Homo sapiens: one gene and its partners. The protein of the gene in region 5 interacts with the protein of the main gene of each other region in a pairwise test. Each region holds a gene or a part of one and is shown on either strand. Other genes may lie near its edges.

Evidence for each region.
Region 1: the proteins of RBFOX1 (region 5) and POGZ interact in binary tests that used the Homo sapiens proteins (3 or more experiments, as listed by UniProt).
Region 2: the proteins of RBFOX1 (region 5) and P4HA3 interact in binary tests that used the Homo sapiens proteins (3 or more experiments, as listed by UniProt).
Region 3: the proteins of RBFOX1 (region 5) and LMNA interact in binary tests that used the Homo sapiens proteins (3 or more experiments, as listed by UniProt).
Region 4: the proteins of RBFOX1 (region 5) and TOLLIP interact in binary tests that used the Homo sapiens proteins (3 or more experiments, as listed by UniProt).
Region 6: the proteins of RBFOX1 (region 5) and RBPMS interact in binary tests that used the Homo sapiens proteins (3 or more experiments, as listed by UniProt).
Region 7: the proteins of RBFOX1 (region 5) and AGR2 interact in binary tests that used the Homo sapiens proteins (3 or more experiments, as listed by UniProt).

What each region holds. Positions count from the first base shown.
Region 1 is NC_000001.11:151,452,995-151,456,494, forward strand, and holds part of POGZ (pogo transposable element with ZNF domain), read right to left. Parts: intron 1,909-3,500; exon of another isoform or gene 1,033-1,908; intron 1-1,032. UniProt on the Homo sapiens protein: Plays a role in mitotic cell cycle progression and is involved in kinetochore assembly and mitotic sister chromatid cohesion.
Region 2 is NC_000011.10:74,284,141-74,287,640, forward strand, and holds part of P4HA3 (prolyl 4-hydroxylase subunit alpha-3 isoform 1 precursor), read right to left. Parts: intron 2,252-3,500; coding exon 2,088-2,251; intron 1,846-2,087; coding exon 1,669-1,845; intron 1-1,668. UniProt on the Homo sapiens protein: Catalyzes the post-translational formation of 4-hydroxyproline in -Xaa-Pro-Gly- sequences in collagens and other proteins.
Region 3 is NC_000001.11:156,117,711-156,121,210, reverse strand, and holds part of LMNA (lamin), read right to left. Parts: intron 1-3,500.
Region 4 is NC_000011.10:1,289,133-1,292,632, forward strand, and holds part of TOLLIP (toll-interacting protein), read right to left. Parts: intron 1,278-3,500; coding exon 1,095-1,277; intron 188-1,094; exon of another isoform or gene 1-187. UniProt on the Homo sapiens protein: Component of the signaling pathway of IL-1 and Toll-like receptors. Inhibits cell activation by microbial products. Recruits IRAK1 to the IL-1 receptor complex. Inhibits IRAK1 phosphorylation and kinase activity.
Region 5 is NC_000016.10:6,017,702-6,021,823, forward strand, and holds the start of RBFOX1 (RNA binding protein fox-1 homolog 1), read left to right. Parts: upstream 1-1,322; 5' UTR 1,323-2,197; coding exon of another isoform or gene 2,198-2,200; 5' UTR 2,201-2,291; intron 2,292-4,122. UniProt on the Homo sapiens protein: RNA-binding protein that regulates alternative splicing events by binding to 5'-UGCAUGU-3' elements. Regulates alternative splicing of tissue-specific exons and of differentially spliced exons during erythropoiesis.
Region 6 is NC_000008.11:30,569,541-30,572,756, reverse strand, and holds the end of RBPMS (RNA-binding protein with multiple splicing), read right to left. Parts: intron 2,121-3,216; coding exon of another isoform or gene 2,027-2,120; 3' UTR 501-2,026; downstream 1-500.
Region 7 is NC_000007.14:16,802,200-16,806,329, reverse strand, and holds the start of AGR2 (anterior gradient protein 2 homolog precursor), read left to right. Parts: upstream 1-1,330; 5' UTR 1,331-1,395; intron 1,396-4,130. UniProt on the Homo sapiens protein: Required for MUC2 post-transcriptional synthesis and secretion. May play a role in the production of mucus by intestinal cells. Proto-oncogene that may play a role in cell migration, cell differentiation and cell growth. Promotes cell adhesion.

The DNA of each region.
Region 1 (3,500 bases), on a different chromosome or scaffold from region 5:
TCACTGCAACCTCCACCTCCCAGGTTCAAGTGATTTTCCTGCCTCAGCCTCCTGAGTAGCTGGGATTACATGCATGCGCCACAACGCCCAGCTAATTTTTGTATTTTTAGTAGAGACAGGTTTCACCATGTTGGTCAGGCTGGTCTTGAACTCCTGACCTTGTGATCCGCCCATCTTGGCCTCCCAAAGTGCTTCGGTTACAGGTGTGAGCCACTGCGCCCAGCCTCTTTCTCCCTTTTCGCATGCGTGAAATTTTCTTAATAAAAACTGAGGTGGGGTAGGAGGGAGTGGAACTACCTACTCATATCTTAGCTGTGATATTCTGTACTGCTACATTCCACCTATCTCTTTGGTATTTACTAAATAACTGGTAGCCTTGTTGGTTGAATTTCTTGATTTATTCCCAGGACCAATTTTCATGTAGCTTGTATATATACATTTCTCTTTTTTTATTTTTATGCATCCATTTTCACTTAATATACATTTCTTAAGACATAGCAAAATAGTTAAATAAGAAATAACAAATTAAGGTGGATTATGTAGGCTACCAAGGAGGTACATTACTTTCTTCCATTAATCCATTATTTGACATCTTGGTAACCTAGGTGGTTTCTCTATTTTGTAGTAATTGTAACATGATTTTTTTGTGCACTCAATAGGTTTTACTTAACACTGCAGGCTCACACAGAACTATTAGCAATACTCAGTCTCTTGTCTCATCCTTCAATCCATAATATGGGAGTACCAGATAAATACTCTCCTGGAGGGAAGGGGACTATTTCTTAAATGCTGGCGAATATGGTAGTCTATACTAAGGCCCTATATGATCAGCTAGTCAATAAAAGTCTATATAATTGTAAAGGCAAGATAAAAACAGACCTTTTAAAACAATATACTATTTAAAAGCAGCAAAAAGAATCCTGCAGATACACCTGTATACTTTTAAGGTATTTAATGGGCAGCAAATGTTGCCTATCTTCATCTCAAAGAAAATGAGAAAAAGATCTGTTTTCCACAACTATCCTGACATACTTGGTTCTTGAAAGCTCTGAATTCCTTTGTCTTGTTCTTTCATAGCTGTAAAGTCCAGAAATGAAGAATGAAGAATTCAGAAATGAAGAATTTGGTATCTAACGTTTTCAACTTACTGCCAGTACATACCTGCCCAAAAATCAACATAAAAAGAACATTTGGAACAGGAAAAATATTTTACAGAAAACAAACATTTTAAGAATACCACTTTCTTGTTCCAGGGTGAAAAATAAACAATGATAATCCTCAACATAACTGGTAATTATGTTTTCAAGTTACCTCAATTTTTGGCTCTAAAAAGGACTAATACCAGAAAACCTATAGGGCTGAATACTTAATCTGTGTATAAAACTATAGTTAAACATGTAATAAGCTTTTATTTATCCAGTCTTTTGCACAGCCCATTTTGTCCCTCACAACATCTGTTATAGTACCTCATATGTAAGAATCATAAGGGTTTTAAGTAGTCTTAATAACCTAAAATTTCCAAACTCAAAATACTTTCCTCTTGTCTGGTAGCCAATCCTGTATCAAGAAACACCCAAATATTTAGTTCTGTGCTCTTTACTAAAACAAGTAAGCAACAAGTTCTCTTCTTTAAAGGGGTTCAATATTCAGGAGTCCCTTTCCCAAGAAAAATATCTATACTATGATGGAAAACTTTTCTTCAATGACAGCTGTGTGTTGCCTAAATTCCATTTCTATGCTTTCAATTTCTTTTAACTCTGCTAACACCTAGCAATAGGTTAGTGTCTCTTTTCTGCTCTCCTCCCCTTGGTTACATATAAAAATACGTTTTTCAGTTGGGCGTGGTGGCTCACGCCTGTAATCCCAGCACTTTGGGAGGCCAAGGCGGGTCGATCAAGAGGTCAGGAGTTTGAGACCAGCCTGATCAATATGGTGAAACCCCATCTCTAGAAAAATACAAAAATTACCCAGGTGTGGTGGCGCGTGCCTGTAATCCCAGCTACTGAGGAAGCTGAAGGAGGAGAATCGCTTGAACCCAGGAGGCGGAGGGTGCAGTGAGCCGAGATTGCGCCATTACGCTCCAGCCTGGGCAATAGAGCGAGACTCCATCTCAAAAAAAAAAAAAAGACAAGTTTTTGTGAATATGGCTTAATATCACAAACAAGAATACCAAAGAATCTATCAAAATGTTACCATATTGATATTATGGCAAAGGCATTAACCAGCTCTAGGATTTGTAATCAACCAGCTCTAAAGTTTTTATTTTACAGATAAGGTCAAAACAGTGGTTTAGAGAGACGAAGTAACTTCCTCAAGGTTACAGTTAGTAAATATCCCAGTTAGGATTCAAAGCAAGCTTTTTTTGCTTTAGAATTCTTCCCCAGGTCACTGCCTCTTCCATCAACTTCAACTATTTATAAATTCTCCCAAGTTCCCCAAGGGAGTTAGATTTGAATGATGTAAAGAGCAGAAACATAGGACTGACTGAATGATTCTCATTTTTTTGACTCTTAAAATTATTGAAGACGCCAAAGATCTTTTGTTTATGTGAATTTTATCTTTCCACATTTACCACAAATTTTTAAAATGTAGTATTTATCAATGTATTTTAAGACAAGCCCATTATAAGTTAACATAAATAACATTTCAACAAAAAATACTTTCCCTCCAAAAAGTGAGAAAAGTAACGTTGTTTTGCATTTTGCAAATCTCTTTTATGTCTAACTTGATAAAAGATGGTTGGATTCTCACAGTTACTTCTGCATTCAGTCTGTTGCTATATGTAGCTTTGGTTAAGTATATAATGAAAATCTAGTCGGAAAAGGGAGAAGTATTTTAATAACCTTTTCAGATAACTGTGTTTGGTAAATACTAAAACTCAACAAACGGTAGTTTCTTTCTTTTTTTTTTTTTTTTTTTTTTTTAATAAATAGAGACAGGGTCTCACTATGCTGACCAGGCTCAACTCCAACTCCTGGGCTCACACAATCCTTCCACCTTGGCCTCCCAAAGTGCTGGGATTACAGGAGTGAGCCACCACGCTAGGCCAAATAGTAGTTTCTTAAAGGACAGTTAACATTTTGGAATCTGAAACCACATCAATCCACTTTTTTACTGTTAAAATCCATTGCTATGTCTGGAATTTTCAAAGGATCTTTTGCCTTTGCTTGATTTTGCAACATCATGCATTGGTCATTTGCAAAGCCTAGATTTACTGAGTTATGCCCATCTTCCAAATAACATATTTCATTAAACAACATTTTAAAATATTGCAGTCCTTAACCACTGATATCATAAGGAAAGTCTTTTAAGTACTAGGAAGCTGTCAAACTCCAGCTGTCAACTTTTTAAAAATTCTAATTTTCACCCAAATTTTATCACTGGTAATAAATACTGTCAGTTGTTTTCCTAAAAGTGACAAGCTCACTTCATTTTCAAGAAATATCTGCCAAATACTAAGTGTGAAAAACCATAGTCTGCTAGTCGTTCTTTCAAGTAAA
Region 2 (3,500 bases), on a different chromosome or scaffold from region 5:
ATCTTTAAAGAGGCAACATGCTTATAGAGGTGCATTTTTTCTTGTTAATATTTAGCACACTTCCTAGGGGGAGGATTAAATGTCCTCTTCCCATTGACATCCAGCTTGGCTTGGTGACTTGCAGTGCTTTCCCTGTGGAAGAATTAGAACCTTGCTGTTAACTGCAGTAGTGCCCACATGCTTTGCTCTGACCAGTGAAACATGGGTGGAAGTAACATCTGGCACTTCCATGCAGAAGCTTTATGAACCAGCTCATGTTTGCCATTTGTCTTTTTCCTCTTCCATGAGACTGGCAATGTCCCATACAGAGGCTGCTCTGTCAGGCTGGGTCTCCAAGTGAAGACAGTGGGATGGCTTCAATCAAAATTTAATCTAATCATGATTGTAATTTAATTTAATCATGATTGTAATTTAATTATAATCATAATTACATTATAACTAAATTTTTCCTTAAAACAGCCCTGTTGCCATGGTAATGGGAGAAGTGACCCACCCAGAGATGTCTATTTAGTCATTCATGGCCGTGTCGTCCATTTGGCATGCACAGACCTTGGCACACTTCCTTCCCCTAGAAGCATCTCTCTGGGGCTGCTGATGCCTGTCTGGTTTGTGGCTCTCCCAGGAATCAGCCCTGGGCTCACATGGTAGTGGCTCCCCCATGGAAACTGAAGACAGATGCCTCAGTGGCTTGTGTTGAATATCTGCTTCCTAGTCACTGTCCCTTTCCCAAAGCACACTCACTCAACACTTCTCGCCACATTCTGCCCATCTTTGGAGACTCAGTTGAAGCCCTGCACCTTCGTTGGGCCCGCTAGCCCTGATCATTCTGGCCTCCTTTGGTTCTTTTTATAACGAAATTATAATAATGATTGTAACTGAATTACAAAGTTTAATTTATAATTATATGTTATAATTTATAATTCATAAATGAGGCACAGAGATTAACAATAAAATATAATAATAATAATATACTGTAATAAAATTATGGGAAAATGACCTCTCTCTCTCAAAATATCTTATTGTACTACACTGAGAATAACTGAAACCACAGAAAGTAAAATTGCAAATAAGGGGGACTACTGTACCTCTAAGTTCTAGCTGTGGCTCTAGCTACATGTATGAGCTTAACAAGTCCCTTCCCCTCTCTGGGCCTCGGTTTCCTTTTTAACAAAATAATGAAGTTTAGCTTTCTACTCTAACTCTGTAAATTTGTGCTAGGATTTTACTCCTTGCCGCTGTCATTTCACCCTTTTCCCCACCTCTACCAATTACATAGAATGGTTGACACTTTTGAAGTGTTCTTTTTTATTTGTCTTTTTTTAGGTTAAACTTACATACAATGATATACACAGGTCTCAAGTGGACCATTTGGTGAGTTTTGACAAATGCATACAGCCACATGTACCACGTCCCTAACAAGATATTGAGAGCACATTTTCAATACCCCAGAGAATCCTCTTGTACATCATCCAGTTAATCCTTTCCCTCTAGAGGCAAGCACTATTGTGATTTTTTTCCACCATGGACTAGTTTTATGGAATGGTTGGCATTCTGAACTCCTTGGCTCTTTGAGGTGTCTAGTTGTTCAGGTTGCCTATTCTTACACTCCTGAACTCCAGGCATGTGAAGATGAAAGAGAAATTCTTGGCGGGTTCTCAGGACACTCACCCATGGTTCTGCAAGTTCTCTAATTTTCTGAGCCTCTGAGTCACTGACGAAGTCATGGTAGAGAGCAATGTAGGGCTCCAGGTGGATGACCTCCTTCCGGATGGGCTGGAGCAGCAGGTAGGCGTTGGAATTGGTCTCATAGGAACAGTAGAGGCTAGGGATCTGGTAGAGAGTGGGCTGGAAGGAAAGAATAGGATGAGCATAAGAGAAGAAGGGTCTAGGAGCAAAACTCAACTTAGGGGAACTATGGCATAAAAAAATTGGAATGCAAGAGATACAGAATGTGGTCACTCTGATGCTGCCCAAGTGAGCTTTATTGTTTTTAATGCATCAGCTCTATCCCCTCATGTTATCCCAATTCTAGCTTCTCAAACTCTAGCCAGGCCTCTCCCCCTTTCTCTTTCCCTGAGGAATCCTACCTGGGAACCCAGGGTCTGACATAGCCCCTCGTAGGTGTCTCTGGTCTGCAGGTGGGGTATATTGGGCCTCTGGATGACAGCCTCAGCTACCACGTGGTTGGGGCTCTCTGCCAAGAGCCTTTCATATTTCAAGACATTCCTGGCCATCCTCTTATTATCTGGGCCTGGAAGAAATCAGAGCAGGGAATATAAAATAGGGATTAACAAATACTGGCCCCAGGGAGTGCCACCAAGGTTTCCTCCAGCTTCACTGCTGCACAGGATGGGCAAGTGGATCTCCTGAATAACTCCTCATGTCAACACACAGGAGGATGCAAGGCCCTCACTCCCAGAAGACTACCTGGTATTTTTTTAAAAGACTGACTTGATCCTGGTAGATCTGAAGGTGCAAAGGGTTTTGGGAAGCAAAGTGGAACTTAAAACTCTTAGGCCAAGGGATCATGAAGATGGCTGCTCTGGGATACTGTGATGGTATATATGGCGAAGATGAAGCCTCATTCATTCATTCATTCTTTCACCCATCCATTCAGTAAATCTTCAGTGAACATCTACTATGTACCAGATACTGTGCTACAGGTTGACCTCTCAGAGTTTAGAGTCTAATGGAGAAAAAGGACATTAAATTATCACTTACAACAAAATATGATAAGTGCAATGAAAGAGAAGTCCAGAAAGCCAAAGCCTATTGCAAAAGGACCCAACCTATTCTTCCCCAGAGAATTGGAAGCTAATTCATTCTTGGCTCCACTAGATCTTTCAAATCTCCTAACTGGCCTAGACCCAGAGCAAAGAAGTATGGCGCAGAGGGACTCTAGACTTTGGCTCTAGACTGGATTCCCACAGGGCCCTTGGGAAACCCAATAAATCTTGTGTCTTGTTTGTGCCCACCTGTTTGTACCCACTTTGGCTGCAAGATGCCCCATGCATTGGCAGAGCTACCCGTGGCCTGCTGGCCTCTTTGCATGACTCTCAATGCATCTCAGAAGGAGATGCTGAATTGTTCTAATGCTCCCAAAGCATCTTTCTCTGAGGAGCCCAGTGTGCTTCTAACCACAACCATCACCCTGGCAAAGGAGGAAAGGAAGGGGCAGAAATTACCATTCTGTTTTAACAAGAGAAGAAGTGAAGTTTTGGAGAATGGAAATTATAAGCCCAAACCCCAGTGAAAATATTGCAAAGCCGGAAATAAAACTGGGAATCTCAACTTGCCATGTTCTATTATCCACCTATAAAAGCACAAAATTTGAGTGGATAGCAAAGATTTTAATAGATCAAGTGCAAATAAATAAAGAAGGGTTGGATTATAATTTTGTTTGTACCACTAATTACTCATGTGTTTGTAGATACACAGCTACTTCCTTATCCTATTGTTTGCTAATTATCAGAAGGGAATAATGTTACTAAATGGATTCA
Region 3 (3,500 bases), on a different chromosome or scaffold from region 5:
CGAGCATGTGGCACGTGCCTATAGTCCCAGCTTCTTGGGAGGCTGAGGTGGGAGGATCACTTGAGCCTGGGAGGTGGAGATTGCAGTAAGCCAAGATCATGCCACTGCACTCCAGCCTGGGCCAGGGAGCGAGACTGTCAAAAAAAAAAAAAAAAAAAAAAAAAGAATGGATTTGGTGGTGGAGGGTTGGAGAGGTAACACCAGGAGATACCCTCAGATAAAGCCCAGGGCCCATGCATCCTCAAAGGTCTCCAACCCCATTAACCTAATGGGTCTGCCAAAAGGCACAGCTTCCTTTCAATCCGGGTGGACAATTCCCATGACAAGTCTCAAGATAGTCTCAAGACAAGAATCACCAGCCTCCCAGAGCTCTGACCGTCTCACGATTGAGGGGCTGGCAGGGGTCCTGGGTCCAGGTATAGGCTGGAGCAAAGGCTATCGATCATATGCTAACAGGCCCTGCAGGACAGCAGAGTTTTGTTTTGTTTTTTTCTTTTTCAGAGACAGGGTCTTTCTCTCTCCCAGGCTAGAGTGCAGTAGTGCAGTCATAGCTCACAATAGCCTCAAACTCCTGGCTTCAGGTGATCCTCCCGCCTCAGCTTCCCAAGCAGCTGGACTACAGGTGTTGACCGGCTAATTTTTTTGTACAGAAGGGGGTCTTGCTATGTTGCCCAGACTGGTCTCAAACTCCTGGCCTCAAGTGATCCTCCTGCCTTAGCCTCCCAAAGCACTGGGATTACAGGCATGAGCCACGAAGTATGGCCATAGAGCACTAAGGTGTCACTGGCCCCAGAGCAGAGTTTCCAGGCTGCAGAAGTGAGCCTCAGCTACCTGACTTCACCTTACCTCACCCTCTAGATCCTCCCTCCAACCTGTCCCCCAAGCTAGAGAAGTGAGGCTTAATGGTAAGAGCACACCCAGCTGGAAGTCATAAGGCCTGTGATCAAGTGCTGACCCCTTTATTGTGTGACATGGGACAAGCATCTGTGCCTCTGTGGCCTTTGCTGTTCTTGTCTTGATCAGAGCCTACATGAACTGGAGCCTGCATCTCCCTGCCTGTCCACACTGGGGCTGCAACAGTGGGCAATCCAGGAAGTTGTCAAGCACCAGGGCCTTTTTGGAGTGGAAGTAGCGCTTCTGCTTTGTGGGCCTCGGATCTCCCCACTTCTGACTCAGCCTTCCTCCATCAGTTTCACATGGGAAGGCACAGACCCTGGCACTATCCTGCAGCCCAATCCATAACTCTGAACTCAACTCTGGATTCTAATTACTTGTGCATGTTACCTGTCCAGAGAGAGCTATGTGTCCAGACACCACCAGAGGGTCTCAGGAAGGAGCCAGGCAAGGGACTCCAGGATGCAATGGGGAGGGGGGCAGAAGAGGTAGACATTCAGACCACCACTCCTCCCTTTAAGACAACTGCTGTCTCCACCCTGTCTCCTGCTGTCTTCTGTAAAGCCACCAGGGTGGGAGGGAGGGGGGCAGCATCTGAGTCATCCACCCAGCTGCCTTGCCTGGGGTGGGGCCCAGCTGCAAGCCTGGACTCCAGACAGGCTTCCCTGGTGCTTACAACCTTCCCATTCTGCCTGCACTTGGGTATCCAAATCCCTTGGGCTACAGACTAGAAAGAGACAGAGAAGGGGCAGGGGGTACCAGGTGCGGTAGCTCATGCCTATACATCCCAGCACTTTGGGAGGCCAAGGCCAAGGCAGGTGGATTACTTGAGCCTAGGAGTTCGAGACCAGCTTGGGCAACACGGTGAAACCCCATCTCTACAAAATATATAAAAATTAGTGGCCGGGTACGGTGGCTCACACCTGTAATCCCAGCACTTTGGGAGGCCAAGGTGGACGGATCACGAGGTCAAGAGATCAAGACCATCCTGGCCAACATGGTGAAACCCCAACTCTACTAAAAATACAAAAATTAACTGGGCGTGATGGCATGTGCCTGTAGTCCCAGCTACTCGGGAGGCTGAGGCAGGAGAATCGCTTGAACCTGGGAGGTGGAGGTTGCAATGAGCCGAGATCGCACCACTGCACTCCAGCCTGGCAACAGAACAAGACTCCGTCTCAAAAAAAAAAAAAGAAAAAAAAAATTAGCTGGGCATGGTGGCACACACTTGTAATCCCAGCTACTCAGGAGGCTGAGGTGGGAGAATCACCAGAGCCTGTGAGGCTGACGTTGCAGTGAGCTGTGATCATGCCACTGCACCCCAGCCTGGGCAACAGAACAAGACCCTGTCTCAAAAAAAGAAGAGAGAGAGAGTATTGGCGAAAGGGGTTTCTTCTTGGAGCCTATAATCCAGCCCAACAGAAGGTCCCCCAAACTCCTGAGTGTGGTTGAGGTACCCAGGCTGGGTCAAAAATTGCTACAGGGTCTTAAAAACAACTTTCCATCCCAACTCCAAATCTGGCCCTGAACTCTGAGCTCTAATTAAACATTAAACCAGACAACACCTTCTCTCTAGGCTTTGGTGGGAGGGGTTGGGAAAATGCCTTTTTTCCTCTCCCAAATTCTTTACTCTACCCACTTCTCTACCTCACTCTGAGCACAGCAGACCCAGCAGGGAGTAACCAATCCTGGCTCCTCCTACTGTGGGCATAGAAGAGGACAGACACCCCAGTCTGAGTCCCCTTTGTCTTCACCCCACTTTCTATCAGCTTGGGATCCAGGTGTGCAAATCCACCTCTCTTTTCCGGAAGCCCAGCCTTTCCAGCCAGGATCAGTGGGGGAGAACAGAGGGAGGTGGCTAAATATAACAAGTACACACACCACCTCCGCCCTGCCCCACATGCGCACATACCCGCCTGGTGTCCCAGGCCTGGACAGCTGCACTAGGAGGCAGAGGAGACAAACTGGCGTGGCTGGGTGAGCAAGAGAATATCGAATCCACTCAATCTGTTTCTCGATCAAAGTTTTGACCAGAAAACTGCTAAAACTGCTAAAAATGTCCTTCACAGGGCTTTGGTAGATGAGTGGACTAGTTTAGAATGCAACGAATTCTCTGGGTCTCCCCTTCCTTGCTTCCTATCTGTCTTGCTAACTAAATTGTTCATATCACTAGTAGAAAAAAGACAGGCCTGGCGTCAGGCCTGGTGGCTTATGCCTGTAATCCCAGTGCTTCCGGAGGCCGAGGCAGGAGGATTGCTTGAGGCCAAAACTTCGGAACCAGCTGAGCAACATAGCAAGTTTCCATCTTTACAAACAAAAAGCAAAAAAAAAAAAAAAAAAAAAAAAATTAGCCAAGCGTGGTGGTGCCTGCCCTTAGTCTCAGCTATTCCGGAAGGTGAGACGGTAGGATCGCTTGAGCCCAGGAGGAGTTCCAGGCTGCAGCAAGTTATGATTGTACCATTGCACTCTAGCCTGAGCAACAGGGCAAGGCCCTGTCTCTGAAAAATATAATAAAAATAAAGAAAAGGACAGGTGTGGTCTCTTTCAGCAGAATGAACCCAGGAGTTCAAGACTGTGGGCAACATGGCAAAACCCCATCTCTACAA
Region 4 (3,500 bases), on a different chromosome or scaffold from region 5:
GCCACCTGTCAAGCCCCAGAGCAGCCGGGGTGCAGACTGGAAAGGACACGGGGTCTGCCTCCCACAGCTGACTCTGCACTTCCCATGCGCTCTCTACTCTTCTGAGGGCCAGGGAGGGGAAAGCAGGTAGGGACGGGGAGAGAAAAGCCGGGAGGAAAAGGCAGGGCCCAGGCAGGGAGGGCTGGCCGTCTGCTGGCCTGGCTGCCCCACACTGCTCCCCGGCCCCCACCCAGTCTCTAGCCTCACAATGCCACAGGTGCGAGGTGCCAGGACCACACTGAGCAGCAGCCTCGCCACATCCCCTCTGACCTTCTGACTCTGCCTCAGAAGCGCTGCAGGTGCAGCCACGGACGGGACTCAGGACCCTCAAGGGTCACGACCATTCGCACCACCAAGAACAGCTTTCCCACCCAGTAGGCAGCCGCACTCTCTGGAAATCCCACCTGCTGGTGAGCGGCCGGACCCTGTGCGCCCAGCGGGGCGGACACATGCACGCTCTGTCCCTGGAAATCCCACCTGCTGGTGAGCGGCCAGACGAGTGCCCAGTGGACACGTGCACACTCTGTCCCTGGAAATCCCACCTGCTGGTGTGCGGCAAGACCCTGTGCGCCCAGCGGGGCGGACACATGCATGCTCTGTCCCTGGAAATCCCACCTGCTGGTGAGCGGCCAGACGAGTGCCCAGTGGCGGGGGACACATGCATGCTCTGTCCCTGGAAATCCCACCTGCTGGTGAGCGGCCAGATCAGTGCCCAGCGGAGGGGACACGTGCACGCTCTGTCCCTGGAAATCCCACCTGCTGGTGAGCGGCCAGACCCTGTGCGCCCAGCGGAGGGGACACGTGCACGCTGTATCCCTGGGTCATGCTTGTCACTGGGGATGTTTCCAAATGTAAGTATGTTCAAGGAGCTGGAAACAATCCCTTTTTCACATTCCTTGGGGAGAGCAGGACCCTGTCATGCACCCAATGAAACACCAGGTGGGGAGCCACGCCTCGAAGCCAGCCAGGAACGTGGCTGTGTTGGCAGGTGTGTCCCCACGGCAGCCACGCTCAGCCACGTGCAGCCTCCATAATAGCTGGCACGTCCCTCTCACCTCATCGAAGATCTCGAGATAGAAAGAGTCCACGCCTGGGGGCACCGTGCAGTGGATGACCTTATTCCAGCGGGGATTCTTGGCGCCATTGTGTGCCGTGGGCGTCTCGTACACCGCGTAGCCCAGGCGCAGTCGGCAGTAGGGGTCCATGCGGGTCATGCCGTAATTCTTGGCCAACTTTGCCTGGAATGAAGCCAATGTCAGGAAAAGGAGGTGCCAACCATCAGGAGAGGGTGGGTTCTCTAGGCCGTCTGCCTCCCTGAACCCTTCCACGAGGCCTTTTCCTAACACATAGACTACAGCCACTCAGAGTCGCCTGAACACGGCTGTGACCTGCTTCCCAGGAGGCCAGGAGCAAGAAGAGTGAGCCACAGATGGATCGTGCAGTTCTGAGACAAAGCACGTGGCTCGTCCTTGACAGCAGAAACCTACGACGCTCACAGACACAGCTGAGGCCGCCACTCACCCACCATGAAGGGCGCACTCTCTAATGCCCTCCTCAGAAGTGGCTGAGGAGGGAAAGAGGAGGAGGTCCCGGGACAGAGCTGAGAGCCAGAGCATGACATGGAGTGTGAACCTGCCCCCGGAGCATGATGACCCGGGAGAGGTGCATCCTCGCTCTAGGTGAGAGTGAGGACACCTGCTGCACATAATTCAGACGCCACGTGGCTGCTTTCCTCCCTCGTGAAGGCAGCAGCCCTGCCTGTGCTATCGGAGTACGTGGGGTTTTGGGGACTGGAACTTGTCTTTCTTGTGTCTCCCAATCACAAGGAGCCACATCACATGTAGACCATGAGATTCGACTTCAGGCCAGGTGCTCAGCTGGGCAGGGACATTTGAGGTCCTCGGGGTGGGAGTGAACGTGTGTTCAGAATAAGACAGAAGACCGTGGCAAGTAAGATGATTGTTCAGCAAACAAACTCAACATGGATGGCAGGTTCAAATATAAAACCTAAAACTGTAAAACCTTTACAAGAAAAAACCAGGAGAAAAGCCCTCGTAAGCTGGGTTGGGTTCAGCCCTGCAGCTCCGGCTGCCTGTAAAGCGTCCTGCCTGGAATGCAGACGGCCTCCCTGTACCACTGCCACCCGCTCTCCTGCAGCCAACCCGGCTCACCCCCAGGAGCTGGTGATAGAGACCCCGGGAGCCATCCCGGCCCTCCCACCCACATGGAGCCCGCCAGTTCCTCCTTCCCAGTGGAACAGAGTCCAGACACTGCCCCCCGACCCCCTCTGAGGGAACGGCCAACCTGTCCACACCAACCCCCCTCTGAGAGTACTGCCACCCTGTCCTCACCACCCACCCCCCGAAGGCACGGCCACCCCATCCTCACTGACGCCCCTCTGAGGGCACGGCCACCCTGTCCTCACTGAACCCTCTCTGAGGGCACCGCCGCCCTGTTCTCACCGCACCCCTCTGAGGGCACGGCCGCCCCGTCCTCGCTGACCCCCCGCTGAGGGCACGGCCGCCCCGTCCTCGCTGACCCCCCTCTGAGGGCACGGCCGCCCCGTCCTCACCGACCCACCTCTGAGGGCACGGCCGCCCCGTCCTCACCGACCCACCTCTGAGGGCACGGCCGCCCCGTCCTCACCGACCCACCTCTGAGGGCACGGCCGCCCCGTCCTCACCGACCCCCGAGGGCACGGCTGTCCCGTCCACGCCAACCCTCGCCGCACAGCTGAACTCTCCCCTCCTGTGCCCACATCTCTGGACTGCCAGGTCCTCTGTTTTCTATTCTTGTCCACATACAAGTTCCCTCCTTTCACTTCTAATCAAAGCTGTGGCCGGTCCTTTTAGGTCAAAACTGCCCCATTCTTGGGTCCTTAATTTTAGCGTGTTTCTTGGGTGGCCACAGCGTACTCCGGAATGCTATGGAGTGACAGTTTTCCGGAAGCTCCTGGGCGACAGGCATGCTCAGCCTCTAGCAGCTTCCAATTCCCTTCTGCTGCACACCCACACATCTGCTAGATCAGCTCTTACACTCCAAACTCTGCCCCTGTAAACTCCTTAGCAACTGCCCTATTTTCTGGAGAGTATGTAGCAGGAAAGTCTGAGACCAGCATGATTTTCCAAAGCTTTCAGGTAACTGTGCTGTCTCTGCCTAGCTGCTATGACTTATTTTTATTAATAACTTTAAAGGCTTTGAGCAAAGCCAGCTTTCTGGGTGGCACATGGGACTCCCCTGCCAGCATGCCCGTGCCTGTCACCGATGCCTGCTCACATTGGATCCTGCCTGCTTCTGCCACACTCAGCGTCATCCTCTCATTCCCATCTCCTCCCACTGCCCTCTGCACTGTGGCTAGAAAACTCTAGGATGAGCGTCCTGTGACATCAACTGCTCTGCTGAAGTGACCTCCTCGATGTTTATGGAAGCATCTGCCCATTCACTATGACTGCACACAACCA
Region 5 (4,122 bases):
ATAGGCAGAAGTTCCCTTTCTTTTATTCTGAGGTTGAAAGAAACCGCAGCCCGATAGGATTGCAAGAGGAACCCTTAAGGAATCTGCTCCTTGATGGGCGCTAGGAAATACACGTACATCTAGTACAAAGGAATGCACATCACATGGCCCCCTGTTTTGGAAAGCTTACAGCATTTCTTATAAGAGGATCCATGGTATAAGTGCAAACACAGTCACATCACAGGATGGGAAAATGAACAGGCGCCTCAGATCAAGTGCTCAAGGCTGGAATCTGGCCTTGTCCAATGCCACCTGCCCTTCAGAAGGCAGGGTGGTGCCACATAAAATGAGGTAGACTGCCTGGGGAGTCCTGGTTCCTTGCCAGCTATGTGACCTTGAACAAATTACAACTCACTGAACCTCAGACTGACTTTATTGTACAACAAAACCCCCTGGAATATTTGTGGAAAAAAGAGGAAGGGAGAAAGGAAGGAAGGGAGGAAAGGAGGAAGGAAGAAAGGGAGGGAGGAAGGAAGGGAGGGAGGGAAAGGAAAAGGTAGGGGAAGAGCAGAGTTTCTCACTCCAGTCCAGAGTGGGACCCAGGAAGGGAGAAATATTGCTTTAATCTCTCTAAGCATCTGTGAAATGGATAAACCTCCAGTATCTACTTCCAGTTGTTGAAAAGACTCCATGTAAAGTGCTTAAAACAGCATCTGGTGGAAAGTAAATGCTTATTAAGTGCTAGTGTGTATTAAGGCGTCATGGGGCTTCTGGCTGTAAGACATCTGCTAGGAGGACAATCCCTAGACCCCTTCAGCGTCCATTGCGGGAGTAGGTGGCCAGGAAGGGGGCAGGACAGGAGAGGCCCAGCTGTGCGGGGTGGGGGCGTCCCAGGCCAGCCGCACCCACCCCAGCCCTGCATCCCATCCAGCCTGGAGAACTTTTTGAATCTTGGATAGGGCTCGATCTCTGCCTGGCCGGAAGATTTGAAGACTTGCCAGAAAACTTCCTCAGAGAAGAAATGGACTGGGGCAAGAAGCTGCCTCCACTTGGCGTCTCTAGTGGGGGATTTGTCTACTTTGATTGGGGTTGGGAGGAGGGCGCTGGTGCTCAATGAGTGAGCCCACCTGGGGACTACCAGGACGAGGACGGGCGCAGGTGAAAGTCCTGGGCTCATTGCCCCAGCATCCAACTTTCACCCTCTGTCCCCTTTAGGCCAGGAGACCAGGGTACCGGGTCGCGTGTCCGCCGCCGCCGCCCGCTGGAATCCAGGGCTGCACGCGTGACCGCGGCGGCGGCGGCGCTGGCGAGGGGAAGGGGGAGGGGGCGCTCCCTCGCGCACCAGATTATTTTTGGCTCCGCAGCCGGGGCTGCTCGCTGCTTGTCGCGCGCTCACACACACACAGACACACACGCACACACACACATGCACACATTTTCTCGCGCTCTCTCCGGCTCTCCTTTGTTTATTTTCTAATCTATATTTTTACTGGAAGATTTCCTCTTTATTCTCTCCCGCCCTCCTACAAGCGCTCTTGCTGGCCGTCTGGGTGCACACACCGCTCCCTCGATCACCCCAGCCCCCTTCCTGGTCTCCCGAGCGCGGGGTTTGAAGGTCACCTCCTTTCCAGTCCCCGTGCGAGCCGCGCTGCCGCCGCCTCCTCCAGCCAGAGTCGGTGGGACTGGCTGCGCTGCCCTGAAGTGGTTCTCCAAGCAGCGCGGAGGGTGGCGGACGGCGGACGGAGCCCAGGGGCCGCGTCGGGTGGGGAAACCCGAACTCGCGGAGGGGAATCCCTCCCCCTCCGCCCCAGCCCCCCAGCAGCACCCGCGGTGGGGCGGGGGCGCTCTGCCAGCCCCGGGAACAGCAGAGGCGGCGGCACTGGCTGGACCCACGCGCGCGCCTCCGGGGCTGAAGAAGGAAGGAGTGAGCCGAGCCGAGCACCCCACATCTGGAGGGGACAGCCAGCCGTGGGCCCCGCCCCGGCGTCCGGAGCAGGAGAACTCCGAGCTTCTTGCCCAGGCAGAGAGAGCAGGAGCGGACCGCGCGCCCGGGATTGAGAGTCCTTGCGCTCCAGACCCCCACCCAGTGGCCGCCAGGGTCCCCGCCTGTCCGGACCCTCGCCGCGCCCAGGCAGGCGCGCCAGGGCGGGGCTGACCTGCCCGCGAAGTTGCGGACAGTGCGTGAGAAACCAGCACCCCCTTCCGCCGCCTCCAGCTTATGGTGAGTGTGGCTGGGGGTGCAGAGAGCGCACGGGAATTCGGGGGTCTGGGGCCGAGAACGTGACCGCAGCCGGGCTCGCCGGGAGTTCTAGGTAAGTCCAGGCGGAGTCATTGCCTCTGCACCCACCCTGACCTGGTGGGTCAGGTCCAGAAGGTCTCATGGAGGGAAGCGCTAGGTCCCCGAGAACTGGCCTCCTCCTAGCGCCAGTCTGGGCGCTCTGGACGGGAACTTTTTCAGGGTGTGTGGAAAGATCTCGAGGCGTGTCCCCCCCTACCCCCAGGAGGCCGAGACCCTGAGCCCCCTTGTGCGTCGCTTCCAGAAGCACGTCCTTCCTTGCCCCAGAGCGCCCCTCCGAAGCATCCAGGCTACCTCGTCCGTCCTCCTGGGAGCGAGTCCTAGGTGCCAGGAGCAGCGGGAGCCTGCCTGCGCACTTTGATTAGTCTCCCTGGCCGGCTGCAAGCGTGCACTCAGCGCGCCCCCGGACCGCTGCCTCCGCCCGCAGGGTGTGCAGGAGGAGGCATCTTAGTGACCCGGGAGGGTGTTTAGGTGCCCCGAACCCCTTGTGGGAGGAGGGGAAGAGAAGGCTCACTTATGTGGAGAAAGCGCCGCTGTGTTTACTGGCACTGGAATCGATGCCCCGCGGTGCCACCTCGACCCCAGGGGAGGGGGCCAGCCGGGAAACCTGCGAATGGGAAACTCCTACTGTGCCCCTGGTTCCTGGGAGCCTTAGAGAACCTTCACCCCAGAGAAGGAAACACAGGGGTAGCAGATCTTAGCCCTGTGTTGTTGTGCAGGCCAGGGGGGGGCTTGTCAGCTCCAATCAACCAATTGTCCAGCTATGGAAGCGAGGGCGGGGCTAGTGGGGCGCCGCTCCCATCTCCCCACCGCCCAGGAGGCCACTTGGCTGTGAGCTCCTGGAGCCTCCCTGGCGCCAGCTGCGGGGACCAGGTGTCACGCGGAGCCCGGAAGCTGTCCACTCAGCAAGGGAGGGGAAGACCCCGATCTAACCTTGTCCTGGAGCCCCCAGCTCCATTCCTTGCTGCCAGGGAATGGTCAGGGGGCTGGGAGAGCTCATCGCTCCTGTGTGGGCCAGAGCTGGGGTGCACCTGCTGGCACTGGAACATCTGGGGTGCGGCTACTGAAGAGCTTGGAAATCCTGGTCAGGCAGTCCGGGCAATTGGCACCCCAAAGGCGGATCTTTTCAGTTGAACTTGAAAAGAAGTGGGGGAGTGTGGTGAAATAGCTTTGTTGAGTTGAAACATCATGTCTCCTAACTTGGGTTTTCCTTTATTAGAATAATGATTGTTTATTTTTATTTTTAAACTCCGTTGTGCAGAGAGGCCTGGCCTTGACAGCCCAAGTTTAGGACATGCCCCAGCCTGCCATCCCTTCCCTGCCCCCTGTCCTAGTTCATCTCCCCTCCATTTATCATTTTATCTTTGTTACAAAAGAGAGAAAAAAAAGATGAGAGGGCCTGGATTCTTTCAATTTTTAAGTGACCACAGAGGCCCCGGCTGGAGCTACTGGCAGATTTATTTTTAGCTAAGATCTTTTATGTTCAGAAGCAAAGGACCTGGGGCCTGTGAAGGGTAAAGGTGGTGCTGGCAGTGGCTGTGCTGGTAAAAAGTGGGGCTGACTCAAAACCTGTGTCCTCTTTGAGCTCGTCAGGGAGGCCCTCCGTTTGGAAGAATCCCCTGGGCTTTCCTTAAGTTAGCTTATGGTTGCCTCGGGTTAGGAAGAAAAGTCATCATTCCTCGCGGTAGTGGAAGTGACACCTTAGGGGTCCAGAGAGTGGAGCTTTATGGCTCAGAAGAGCACAGGGCTTCTGGATCCGTTATCTGCCAGCTGTGTGACCTTGGGCAAGTTGCTTTACCTCTCTGAGCTTCGGGTTGTCACCTGTAAAATCAGAGTTTCAGTCGTAG
Region 6 (3,216 bases), on a different chromosome or scaffold from region 5:
AGGACCACAGGTGCTAGTACTCCTGGCTAATGTTAAAATTGAGGGTCTTGCTGTGTTGTCCAGGCTGGTCTCAAACTCCTGGGATCAAGCAAGCCTCCTGCCTCAGTTTCCCAGTGTTGGGATTACAGGTGTGAGCCACCATGCCTGGCGTAAGATATATTTAAGTCAGCAGAAAACCCAAGTGACATTTTAATATAATTCAGATAATCCTGAGTCAAGCTTTGTAGGCTGAGGTAGATGAGGGGCCTCCCTTGAGGTCCCTCTGCCTCTGGTGTCATTGTGGGTCACCAGCCACTGTGGTTGTGCGTTTGCAGACTTACTCTCTGGCTTTCCCCGGTATCTGCTTCCTCCTTTAATCTCTTTGTGCCTAAGCTCAATGGCCAATGCTTGCTTAGCTCTGCCGAAGCCTGACAATGGGAATGAAATCTGCTGGCGTCTTGTCTGCAGTGTGGGATACATGTAGTTGGTCTTGCTAAAAAAGAATTTGTCAAGCAATGGTGTGACAGCTGGAATAAGCACTTTATTTTTTAAAAATGACAATAGAAAAGTACCTTTAAACAGTTATAAAAGCATAATAGACTGCAGAAGTGGCTATTTTCCTTAGGAGTACAGTCATCTCACCAAGAGCCGATTGGCACTGAGGGCATAAGCAGGTCCTTGAACACCAAAGTGGATCCGTCACAAGTCCTTGAGCTAACTGCCTTTTCCCCTTATTTACGGTAAGAAAGAGCCCCTCACTCCTGGCCTTGGTTTTTTGTGTTGACCTTTAAAAGCTTCTTGACATCTTTATATTTCTAATGGAAAATAACAAAACAAAAACCCAAACCAACCAGGTAATCATGACATTGAAATTTTCAACATAAGCCGAGCGGATCAATAGGAAAGACTGTGTTTGGCAGCTGAATTTAGGTCAGTGTGGTTTTACAAAAATGGCTTCTGTACAAGGGGAGAGGTTGAGCTGTCATGAACTCTGGAGATGTGTCAACTGACAACACCAGACTGACTTTGGCTTTGACGAAGTCTGAATAGAATTGGTTCCAAATGCCCACTGCCTCCGTCTCCTGTGGGGTGTGGCAGGACGTCTCACAGTGAGCACACGCCATTTGGGAGCTCATGGTATGTGGTCGGTTTGGCCCAGTGCTGCCAAGAGTTGGCAACACCAGCTCAGTTCAGCCGGTGTTTTGCAAACAAACATCACTTTGGAGATACAGACATGAGCTGCCCACTGCAGCCAGGTGGGCTGGGCACAGCCAACCCCTTCAAGGGCCAGGGCTGGCCTCCCAAGCCAAGGTTTTCCCTTACCAGTGAGGCAGGCTCTGCACTTACACTGCGGGAGCAGGGATGCGGGGCTGGCTTGTGGAAGGTAGGTTAGGCATCGAGTGGCTACACATACAGGAGAGTGGAAACATAAAACTGTACAAAGTCACACTTGGCACACAGTTGATATAGTCACAGCTGGAGCTACTAGGGCTTTCTAAGGGCACACTCAGCAGTTCTTACCAATGATGTTTTCTTGCCCAGTTGTGAATAAGCCATAGGTAGAAGCTCCTGGAGGCTTCTGGTTGATTGTCTTGCAGGGCTGTCCTACTAGAACTGGGATCCTAGACCTAACACTGCAAATAACAGTTCTGTTTCTAACATCTAACACCATGCTACTAATTTACCCTGGACTCCGGCCAGGCACAGATTTCTATATATTCACAATACAATTCAGGATATTTTGATAATATTTGGAAACATGCCTCAAACATGCAACTTACTTCAGAGGAAAAAAATAGATATTTTTAATTACAAGCATTCAAAAGTCAAGAACAAAAACTGTGATCCAAACCAGTGTAAGATCGTCCATCCCAGCATACTTAAAATGTTTGGTATAAAAATACTCACTTTTCTTGGTTTTATTGTTGACTTCTCTTACGTTTCGTTTGAAAATATCTCCAAACTGTACAGAAATTTCAGACCATGCATTCACAAATAATACGCTATTTCTTACAATTATACAGTGTAAAAGAGTAAAACATTTTTATTAATTATATTTTTTTCTTCGAGAAAAACAGATGTGTGATAGAGGCTGTGACAAAGTCTTGAAGGGATCAAAACTGGGCAAGGGTTTTTCAAGCCTGAAACAGAAAGAAAACATGTTAGGAGAGCAGGTGTCAACCCCTCCCTAGTTGCGATGGCTTTGTCCTGGAGATGCTGTGGATGGGAGAACGGATGGGTTAGATGACAGTGTGCGGATGTGTGTATAGAACATATTTGCTGACCACATGTGTCAGTGGTCTCACCTTGATTAGAAACATGGGGCAAGTCCTTGGCTCCCGCTCACAAACCCCTACCCTGGCCCAGAGGTTTTCTTGAAACACATCTCAGCTATATTGTATTATTCAGTCACTCCTTTTCCTGCCATCTTACCAGCATGTCACACACGTTTGAGAAGTTGTAGAAAAGGTGTATGCAGAAGGCAATCAATCAGCTCAGCATACACTAGAATTTTGTACAGGGAGATGCTTATTTGTGTGCCGAAAGAGGCCATAAACAGATAATTATTGATAACCTATTTAAATGTCCCAAGTTAGATTTTGTCCCAAGTTAGATTTGGGAAAATGTGTTTTAAAAAGTCCTGAAATGAGAATATTTAGGTGACCACTGAAACATAGCGTACGGGATGAGCTTGTAAATGTTCACACCAAATCTGTCCAATTTGTATCTGACCTGTGACTTTTCACTGCCCAGTTTTTGGACGACAGTATGAGTGGGTAGCGGGTAACGGCCGGCGGAGCAGGGGCAAGCCAGGCAGAGCTTTCCACAGTGGGCCCTGGACACCCTGGACCTTCTCTGTGACGGGCGACTAATACTTGCCTGTCTCTTTAGGTTGTGGCAAATAAATAATGACATTAGTTCTAGCACATCCGCTTAAGTATGCTTACTGTAGACAGCCCTCAAGGCAGCCAAATCCAGACTCATCCCTGTGCACCCCTGGCCTGTCCCTGCCCTTTACACCGACCTCATTTCCTGTCCTCTTGGCTCATCTGCTCCTTCCACTCCACCATCACCATCTTAGGGCCACCTGTGCAGAAGTGTGCTTCTACCTCGAATCTTCATCTACTTTGCTTTGGGCAGCATGACAACAACATTCCTAAATCACTCTCCACCCCTGCTCATCTTTCCAGTGGCTTCCAAATCCCTAACACATCCTTCAAGGCCTTCAAAAGCCTG
Region 7 (4,130 bases), on a different chromosome or scaffold from region 5:
CCAAATCCCATCCACTTGTTACTTTCAGTGGATAAGGGACTGAAGGACTTTGGTCCCAACTCTGCCCTAAACTAGTTGTGAGACCTTCAAAAAGTTATGAATTTTTTGCCATCTTCATTTATTCATCTGTAAAATGAAAGACTGGAATTGAATATTACAAGGGTCTATCTAAGGGCCTGCTAGTTTTAAGAATTTTGCTCAAATCATCGTTTTCAAACTCCTGAAGAAATTACTTCTATAAATTCATTAGAATTGAAAGGAAATTCAGTATTTGGAGAATCACGATTTTGCCCACAGAATTCAAGGATTTATTGGAAAAATATACATACTTGCAAATGTTTTTGAAATATTATGACCTTAACTCATTTTAAAAAGTCATTTATATAGGGCTTGCATCCCATTCATTAACTTTCTGTTGTTAACATTTTCTTCATTCTGAGCTTTTAAAGACTGCACACAACTTCATGAACAAAATACAGGATTAAAATTTTCTGACAGAAAATTTAAATTCCAGTTTTAAAATCTTCAGGGAGTAATTAAATGGTCTTGAGGGGAAAAAAAACTTGGTTGCAGACCTTAGTTTTTAGGTCTGAGAAAATGGAGTAAATGGCTTCCTGCTTGCGTGGCAGGAAAGTTTGCCTTTAAATAAGAGATTATCTGTGAAATACCTTTGAACTCTGTGGAGGGAAGTTGCTGCATACATTCAATGGCAAGGCATTTATTACAAGCTCACGATATTAGGCTGTTTTTTTTTTTTTTTTTTGCCAATACTTCCTCAGTTTTGAAAAATTACGTGGGTTACTTGATTTGTATTTTTTTTCATACCTGTAGAAGTTAGGGTGCATTGTTTTGACAGGAGCAGGGAAGTATTGTAGAAAATAATTTTTATCATAATGGAGTATGGCAGGTTATATGACTGCGAGGATCAGAATTGTGAATCATCTCTTGTGTGTCTTCAAGTAAATAAAGGCAATCTGCCCACGGAGCAGAAAAAAAATCTACAAACTACAAACTCTGTCCAATCATGTAAAGACAAATCAGCCTTCAGGCAAATCAAATGTCTTCATTCAAAGTCTACCTGGATTTGGCACTCTGCCCATCGTTTCAAAACCTCTTAACAATACGTTTCACAAATAGTTAAAAACATGCATACTGAAAAGCATACTTTTGCAATGTTATTTTTAAAAACAAGGAACTCTTTAACCCAGGGAAGATAATCACTTGGGGAAAGGAAGGTTCGTTTCTGAGTTAGCAACAAGTAAATGCAGCACTAGTGGGTGGGATTGAGGTATGCCCTGGTGCATAAATAGAGACTCAGCTGTGCTGGCACACTCAGAAGCTTGGACCGCATCCTAGCCGCCGACTCACACAAGGCAGGTGGGTGAGGAAATCCAGGTAAGGCTCCTGACAGCAGCTTTAGAAGGGTACTTGCTGGAGTGAATTCGGGCCTCTGATTGCTATATAAAGTTGTAGGCAATCAAGCAACAGAGAACTGCAAGTTTCCAAAGGCAATGAAGTAGGATACGGAAGGGAAATCATGGAATTTCCACAAAAGTCTTACTGGGGCCTTTCTTTGGCTAGAGCTGGCACAGTGTGACGTTCCCGAGTTAGTTCAGAGAAATGCTTTCTCTTTTGCGAAACAAAATTTCCAAGAGTAGGTGAATCCTAGGATTTTTCAAGCCTGGGACAGGGTCCAGGGATTTTCGTCTCAGTCACCATCTAAAGCTTTCTTTCCCACGGGCTAAAGCAAAGCCCCATAGGCTTCTCCACTATGACACCTCAGCTCGGATTGCCCGCTTGGAATATATTATTGCAAATCAGAAAACAGTTTTCTTTCTCTTTTTGCTGCAAAGACATTCTTGTTGCCTCTGCAATCTTTAAATTCATGGGATAGGCTATTAGAGGAGAGAGCTGGTTGCTTTCCTGAAGCATCTACAAATAGGGACACTAAAATGTCTTGCAAGTTCATTATTTGCTAAAGACAAGAAGACAGGGATACGGTGATGAGTAAAAAGTGCTGGCTTCACATAATGTGTGTGTGTGTGTGTGTGTGTGTGTGTGTACCTATGTCTGTGTGTGTCTCCAAATTATCAATATTTTCCATGGAATTGTGTTTTGAGGTGGTTTATGCAGGAAATTTGCAGAGCAGAATCTATTCACATTACGAAAACTCAGTGGAGTGAATCTCAGAAAGTCACCCCACAGCAGGATGTTTGTACAGCAGGAGTTATGTTAGCCTTCCTTGAGTCATCCTGCCGTAAAACACAAGCAATATATCAATAGTTCCAACCTGTGATCTTTGGAGATACTGCAAGGTCCTAATAGCTACTTGGAAAACAAGAACTGTAAATGGGCTAAGTAAATAAAAATGCCTTACCATCAATTTACTATTTTTTAGAATATATATAGATGCTGTTATAAATAAAAGATAAAATCAAATGTTTGTTGATAGATTCAAAGAAATTATTTGCCATATGTTTCTGAACCAGCCAGTATTCCAAATGTATAATTATTCTCATGTAAAAGTTCTTGATTTTTTTAACATTACAAAGAAGTCTTTATACAAAGAGGGCTGAGAATTGTTGACTTACAGTGAACACTTAGGTTGTTTTTGCAAAACTCTAGAAGACAAAAGTTATTGGCATTTCCACATCTTTGTAGGTATAGAAAATGAACAAAGTATATCCCTGATTTTTGCTTACATCTTTTCTGAGTAAGACATTTTGTGCTTACATACTATGGATTAGTTAATCATTGGTCAGTTAAATACAAAACATCATTTCGATCTGGTAGCTTAGCAACACTTAAAAAAAAATCAGCTAATGCTTAGCAAAGGTTTCCACTCAAGATATTAGATTATGAAAAACTTCCTGCTTAACAATAGTAATTCCTTGCAGAGTTTATTTGACTTCATTCAAAACCATTCACCAATACTAGAGTTAGGTGCCGGGGTTTCATATTTCCTTTTTAGCACTTTTAGTGTTTGGTTTTATCAGAATCCCAAATCTCCAGCCTTCCATGTTACGGCCCCGTGGACAACCTTAGTGACTTGCTAGAGCAACTCACTTTGCTCCCTCCCTCCCTCCTCACTCACAAAACTTATCTTGCCATGTACTTTCCTTTTCATAGGCTTTAGTTTTTCCTGGGAATCAACTGTGGCATACCAGAAAGAAAAAGTAATTTAACTAAGATATCAGCTAGGCGTGGTGGCTCACTCCTGTAATCCCAGCACTTTCGGAGGCCAAGGCAGGAGGATCACTTGAGGTCAGGAGTTTGAGACCAGCCTGGGCAGCATGACAAAACTCCATCTCTACTAAAAAATACAAAAGCATAGCCAAGTATGCTGGCACGTGCCTGTAGCCCCAGCTCCTTGGGAGGCTGAGGAGGGAGGATCACTTGAACCCAGGAGGTGGAGGTTGCAGTGAGCCACGATTGTGCCACTGTACTCCAGCCTGGGCAACACAGTGAGCCCTTGTCTCCAAAAAAAGTAAATGTAAATTTTCTTAGCTACTAGAGTATGTATATCTATTTTCTCAAAATATATCTCTATTTATCTATTTCTATATAGATATATATATCTATATAGATAACTCTATATCTATAGAGATCTATATCTTTTTGTCTTTATCTATGTGGATCAATAGACAGCTATCCATACTATATACAAACAGTCCCAACTTACAGAAGTTTGACTTAATTTTTTGACTTTATGATGGTGCAAAAGCAATACACATTCAGTAGAAACTGTATTTCAAGTATCCATATAACCATTCTGGTTTTTACTTCCAATAGAGTATTCATAAAAATTACTTGAGATATTTAACACTTTACTATAAAATGGGCTTTGTGTTGGATGGCTTTTCCCAACTTTAGGCTAATGTGAGTGTTCTGAGCACATTTACGGTAGGTTCAGCTGTGGTGTTCAGTGGGTTAGGTGTATTACGGTAGTTCCCCCATTATCTGTGGGGGTTATGGTCCATGACCCTCAGTGGATGCCTGAAACCGCACATTAGTACCAAACACTACATATGCTATGTTTTTTCCTATGCATACATATCTATGATAAAGTTGAAATTATAAATTAAGCACAATAAGAGATTAATAAGAGCTAATAATAAAACAGAACAATT